Homo sapiens: one gene and its partner. The protein of the gene in region 2 purifies or fractionates together with the protein of the main gene of each other region. This does not show direct contact. Each region holds a gene or a part of one and is shown on either strand. Other genes may lie near its edges. The genes, in order: ARL6IP5 and HSD17B2.

What was found.
Region 1: the proteins of HSD17B2 (region 2) and ARL6IP5 purify together in Homo sapiens (affinity purification with mass spectrometry; one large-scale study listed by BioGRID and IntAct). This does not show direct contact.

Annotation. Positions count from the first base shown.
Region 1 is NC_000003.12:69,101,616-69,104,270, reverse strand, and holds part of ARL6IP5 (PRA1 family protein 3), read right to left. Parts: intron 2,433-2,655; coding exon 2,215-2,432; intron 1-2,214. UniProt on the Homo sapiens protein: Regulates intracellular concentrations of taurine and glutamate. Negatively modulates SLC1A1/EAAC1 glutamate transport activity by decreasing its affinity for glutamate in a PKC activity-dependent manner.
Region 2 is NC_000016.10:82,041,688-82,045,514, reverse strand, and holds part of HSD17B2 (17-beta-hydroxysteroid dehydrogenase type 2), read right to left. Parts: intron 1,180-3,827; exon of another isoform or gene 1-1,179. UniProt on the Homo sapiens protein: Catalyzes the NAD-dependent oxidation of the highly active 17beta-hydroxysteroids, such as estradiol (E2), testosterone (T), and dihydrotestosterone (DHT), to their less active forms and thus regulates the biological potency of these steroids.

The DNA of each region.
Region 1 (2,655 bases), on a different chromosome or scaffold from region 2:
TTTTTTTCTGCATTAAAGGAAAATGCTGTATTCAACAGGAAGGACCATTATCTGGAAGCCACACCCTTTCCTTCACACACTGATATCATCACCTTGCAGATGCTACTTAAATGTCCTGAAATTCAGAGTGAATCAACGGGATTCCATCCTACTTAAAAATCAACTTACCCGAGGCTTTCCAGAAAAGAACTCTTGCTCGATTCGGGATTATCTGTATCTTGTTCCCTGCAGGAGCACGTGAGTAAAGTCCACTTTTAAAGTGCCTCCCGGAGGCTTTACCCAAAGTGTTGGGTATAGAATTCTAGATGTAAAAATCTAAGGGCTTTACAGAGTTTCTATAGCCTACCGTTCCCCAAACTTGCTTGATTATTTTACCACAGATTCCCTATCCCCTTTCCTGGACCTCCTCCACCTGAGCCTTAAAGAGACAGGCCTGGGAATCTGTATTTTAAACAGGTAACCCTCTCTCCATATGATCTATACCAGTGGTTTTACAACTTCCATGTACATTCAAATCACCTGGAGAGCCTGTTAAATAGGCAAATTCCTGGTCTCCATCACCCCAAATTCAGACTGTTACAACTGAGGGAAGGCTCCAGAATTCATTATTTTAATAATCACTCCAGATGATTCTGATGTAGGTGGATCTTGGACCCTTATTTTGAAAAACCCTGATGTGGATTCATCTGGAGGATCTCAACCTAGACCACCCGTTAGAAATAGTTGACGAGCTTTCTAAAAACCTAACATCCTTGGGTACCACTGTTGACCCACAAAATAAAGATGTGGCTGGGAAATGTATATTTTTAAAAAGTATCCTGAATGCTTGTCACAATTATCCGTTTGGGAATCACTTATCTAATCTCCTTACTTTAGAGATGAGTGAACTACAGCCCATATAGGATGACTGGTCCAAATCACATGCTGGTTTCCAGCAGGTCTAAGAATAGAAATCAGGACTCTTAACTGTCTACCTCTGATACATTTCGTTACACTGGCCTGTCTCAGGTTCTGATGTGGAAAGGTATTAAAATTAGCAAGCTGTTTGATTAAACAGTATCATTGAAATACTAAGCGTTAAGCACCTACAGAAAACCTGAAGAAAATTCCAAAAATGTGTGAATTTGTTGGCTCAGATATTTTATCCAATAGGGTATGGGATGTATCCATAAATATTCTGGACTTAATCTAACAAAGCCCTAAACAAGCAAATAATTTCATTTAGTGGAATAAGTGCACATGTCAAATGTTATTGAAAGTTAAAGGGATGTGCCTGTCACTTAATATACTAGAATTTTAATCAGATTTCTGCTGATTAGGCTGGGATTTTATTTCTTGTCTATTTCAGGCTTCAAGTGTTTGGAGTCTTAGTAAATAATTCATGTAAAACTTAGAGAATATCTAGATCTCTTCACCAGAATCTGAGTATTTAGTACCTATATTCTGAGCCAATTATTCCTATAGACTTACCAAACTTTTAACACTAGTTATGATCTCCTGAGCAAGTGGAGAATAAATAGTCTACTTCCAAATAATAAATACATTCATTCCTGTGTCAGGACAATAGGAATGGCACTTAAAAATTGAGAATAGACTCTCTTATTAGACAAATCTGGAGTCTAGTGCAGGTTATGCCACATTCCTGCTGTATGACCTGGGATTTGTCTTTGTTCTGTTTACTGTTGTGTCCCCATAAGAATGTATGGCACACAGCTGGGCGAAGTGGCTCACGCCTGTAATCCCAGCACTTGGGGAGTCCAAGGAAGCTAGATCACTCAAGCTTGGGAGTCCGAGATCAGCCTGGGCAACATAGTAAAACCCCGGTCTCTACCCAAAACACAAAAAATTAGCTGGGTGTGCACCTGTGGTCCCAGCTATTCAGGAGGCAGAGGTTGCAGTAAGCCGAGATAACACCACAGCGTGGGTGACAGAGTAGACCCCATCTCAACAACAACAAAAGAATGTATGACACATAGCAGATGCCCCAACAAATATTTGTGGAATTAATGAACTATAAGGCCTTGACCTCATAGTTCTTGACCTCAGTTCTGTGTTATCTGGGTCTAGTTGGATAACAAGTAGAAAGCTGTTTTAGAAAATTCTGACACTTTTGCTGACATGCCAACACATATAAGAAATGGGTTATGGAATTCCCGTTGGATAATTGCTTCTACATTTTTTTGATGATGGAAGAAAAAACTCAAGTTCACTTACACAGCAAAGGAAAAGTAATGCCAAACACAAAGACCATGACTCCTCCAAACATGGAGATAAGGAAATAGCTCGCCAACATGACCACCATAACGAACGTCGTGGGGTAGCGCTTCTTCATCCGGCGAAGGACGTCTTTATTGTGGGCTGCCCACACAAACCCTGTGAACACCAGCACCACCACGATTCCTCCCAGGATCATGTTGAAGGGACTCAGAAACCTGAAATATGAGGAAGAAAAAATGAGGGGTGACTAGTTCAGCAATAGAAGTAGCAAAAGGAGAAAGAGGAGTAAAAACAATTATTGAGAACTTACTAATACTTTAATACTTTATCTAAATTGTCTCATTTGATTTCTCATAACCTTATAAAGGAGATACTATTAGTTCATTTCTCAAATGAAGAAGCTAAGGCACAGAGGTTAGAAAATGGTGGGGAAGGCCA
Region 2 (3,827 bases):
ATCATTATATTTTATAAAGCAGCTACTACGTATCAGGCAGCAATATATATTCACAATCTTGCTTAATACTTAGAAGAGATATCAATCATGATTCCACTTTATATGTGAGAAAAATTAACCTCATAGAGGTGAAGCAGCTTTCTCATGAGTGCAGAACTAGTGAGTAGTCTAATATCTTCATTTAGATACTGTATATCTTAAGAGGGAAGCTTAAGATGGATGGGGGGCTCACTGGGGGTAAACAGCCCAGTGCTGACCCCATTTAAGTTCACAGTCAAACCTCCCTGGACCATTTTCATACCAGCTGCAGTTTGCAGTTTAGACACAGCATCCGCTATTCAGAGAGTTGATTTTCTTTTCTTTTTTCTCTCTTTTTTTTTTTTTTTTTTTTTTGGACAGAGTTTTACTCTGTCACCCAAGCTGGAGTGCGGTGGTGTGATCTCAGCTCACTGCAACCTCTGCCTCTCATGTTCAAGCGATTTTCCTGTCTCAGCCTCCTGAGTAGAGTAGCCAGGATTACAGGTGCACACCACCATGCCCTAATAATTTTTGTATTTTTAGTAGAGATTGGGTTTCGCCCTGTTGGCCAGGCTGGTCTCGAACTCCTGACCTCAGGTGATCTGCCCACCCTGGCCTCCCAAAGTGCTGAGATTACAAGCGTGAGCCACCATGCCCAGTCAGAAGTGTTGGTTTTCTGGACCTAGTGTGACAGGGGAACACTTCTTCCCCACTTCCTATGCTGTCTGCAATATGGAGGGATAGCTTTCAGTGTGACGTTCCTGGCCCCTCTGGCTCCTCTACCCTCCTCCCCCCAGGGAGGTGGAGCAAAGTATCTGATTGGTGAGTTTGGCAGAAAGAATTGGACATGAACATTTTGCCTGGTGCAAAGGTCTTTTCTCTCTCTAGCAGGAGAACCAAATGACAACTCGGAGGAAATGATCAGGACTGAGAAGGAGAGGAGAAAATCCAAGAGGCCAGACCCTCACGTGGACCCTATTGTCTCTTCCTTCCAACCTCCCAGCCTATAAACACCTGTGCTAAGCCCAGCTGCCCAGCCCAGGCCCCATCTGTGGGTGAGGCCTGAGACTTTTCGACCTTGCCTTGGCTGAGCACCGTTATTACCACATGCCTAAGACCCGTGCTCCAATGCATCTATCAGGAATAAAGCTGATGTCTTAAGCCCCCTGTCTCATTTCTCCATTGGTTCAGAATTCAGGGGAAATTCTGTTTAGGGACTGACCCCACCAAACAAAGCAACAGCATGTGGTGAAGAACCCTGCATCTGTTCTGATTTAATTTCACCTCATTTAGTTCCAGCTGGGTTTGTGTTGCTCATACCAAGATGGTATGTGATATTAACTCTGAGTCAACAGCTCAGAGGAATGTCAAGAAAGAAACTGGAAATGGTTCAGAGGAGGCTAAATAGAATGATGAACGTTCTGGAAACTAGGCCATGGGAGGAATGGTAAAAGGAATGAGAAGATTTAGTTCAAAGAAGATTTGACTCTGATATGATGCAGTCCACATGTTTCAAGGGCAATCATGCAAAATAATACTTTAATTAGATTATGTGACTTCCAAGAGCAGAGTTAACTTCAAGGGAAGAATAGTTCGCTCATTATAAGGAAGATATTTACAACCATTAGCATTGTATAAAAATGAAATAACTTCCACCAATAGGGGGTCAACTCCCTGTCACTGGGATTATTCAAAACCCCAGTGGATGAAATGGGATGATCCTGAAAATGGTGTTCAGGTGTTGGGAAATGGTTGGGTCTGAAATAAAGTTTATCTATATGATTTTTTTTTTTTTTTTTTTTTTTTTTTTTTGAGACAGAGTTTTGCCTTGTCGCCCAGGCAGACAGTGCAGTGGCGCGATCTCGACTCACTGCAAGCTCCGCTTCCTGGGTTCACGCCATTCTCCTGCCTCAGCCTCCCGAGTAGCTGGGACTACAGGCGCCTGCCACGGCGCCCGGCTGATTTTTTCTATTTTTAGTAGAGGCGGGGTTTCACCGTGTTAGCCAGGATAGTCTCCATCTCCTGACCTCGTGATCCGCCCGCCTCGGCCTCCCAAAGTGCTGGGATTACAGGCATGAGCCACCGCGCCCGGCCATCTATATGATTTTTATAAACCCTAAAGTGGCTGAATGATCTGTTCTTGGCTGCTCACCCCTTTCCCCCCAATATCACAAGTGACCTGAAACAAGGAGGGCAGGCCAGGGGAGACCCCTTGCATGTGGCCAGATCCTGCCTGGGGAGCCCCAGTCCCCACATTGCACTTGCTAATGGGAGGGAACATGGAAGCCTCAAAGCTCTATGTGCTCCACTAGGGAAAAGCTTGGCCCAAGACGAGCTTCTTTCTCCCCTCATCCTTCCTTGAAGGAGTCTGTGATAGCCTGAATAAGAAGACAGAGGCCCTGACAGCAAAGTAACCCACAGAAATGATGTCAAGAGATGCAACTGCATAAGCAAGAGAAAAGTTTCTTCTCTGCCTGCTCCTCTCTGCAGGAACCAGAGCAGAAGTTGGAAGCTAACATTTGGCCACAAGAATGTGTTCTGTTTGATCTATGGGATTGTTTAAAATATAAGAAAGAGACCAGATGCAGTGGCTTACACCTGTAATGCCAGCACTTTGGGAGGCCGAGGCAGGTGGATTAGCTGAGTTCAGGAGTTCGAGACCAGCCTGGCCAACATGGTGAAAGCCCATCTCTACTAAAAATACAAAATTAGCTGAGCATGGTGGTGGGTGCCTATAATCCCAGCTACTTGGGAGGCTGAGGCAGGAGAATTGCTTGAACCCAGGAGGAGGAGGTTGCAGTGAGCCGAGATCGTGCCATTGCACTCCAGCCTGGGTAACAAGACCAAAACTCCTTCTCAAAAAATAATAAATAAAATAAAATAAAATATAATATAAGAAAGAAATCATTGCCAACTTGTTTTAAATGGGAGATTTCACACACAAAGATCCACAATTTTCTATTTCCTCTTAAATACCACAAAAATGGCAAAGTGGCAATAATTGACTGGAAATAGGAAGCAGCTGCCTTCTCTAGTCATGAGGTATGTGCTCCAGTTTGCATGGAACTTACCACCCTCCACCAAGTTTTAGACACTGAGGCCAAGTGCGATAGTTCTGGCTCACGCCTGTCATCCCAGCACTTTGGGAGGCTGGGCGTGGTGGCTCACGCCTGTCATCCTAGCACTGTGGGAGGCTGGGCGTGGTGACTCATGCCTGTAATCCCAGCGCTTTGGGAGGCTGAGGCGGGAAGATCACTTGAGGTCAGGGGTTCAAGCCCAGCCTGGTCAAAATGGCGTAACCCCCTCTCTACTAAAAAATACAAAAATTGGCTAGGCATGGTTGTGGGCCCCTGTAATCCCAGCTACTCGGGAGGCTGAGGCAAGGAGAATTGCTTGAACCTGGAAGGCAGAGATTGCAGTGAACCAAGATCGCACCACTGCACTCCAGCCTGGGTGACAGAGCGAGACTCTGTGCATAAAAAATTAAAAAAAAAAAAAAGAAAAGAAAAGAAAGGGAAAAGGATCACAAGAGGAGATGATAAATTTTTTTTAAAACATGCCAAATTTAAAGTTTCAGGCTAAAATTCTGGAAATATGAGTCAGGAGCTCAGAAGAATGTCAGGTATACAAAACCACGATTTGCCAGTCCTCTCTCAGAGGAGATAATTGATACCACAGGAGCAGGTATGACTTTGCTGCTGGGTAGAGAATGCAGCCATATAAGAAGGTGGAGTAAAGACAGAGTCAGAGATTACCTTGGAGGAAGTGTAGGAAGAACCCGGAAGAGTCAAAGGACAAAGAAGCATGGA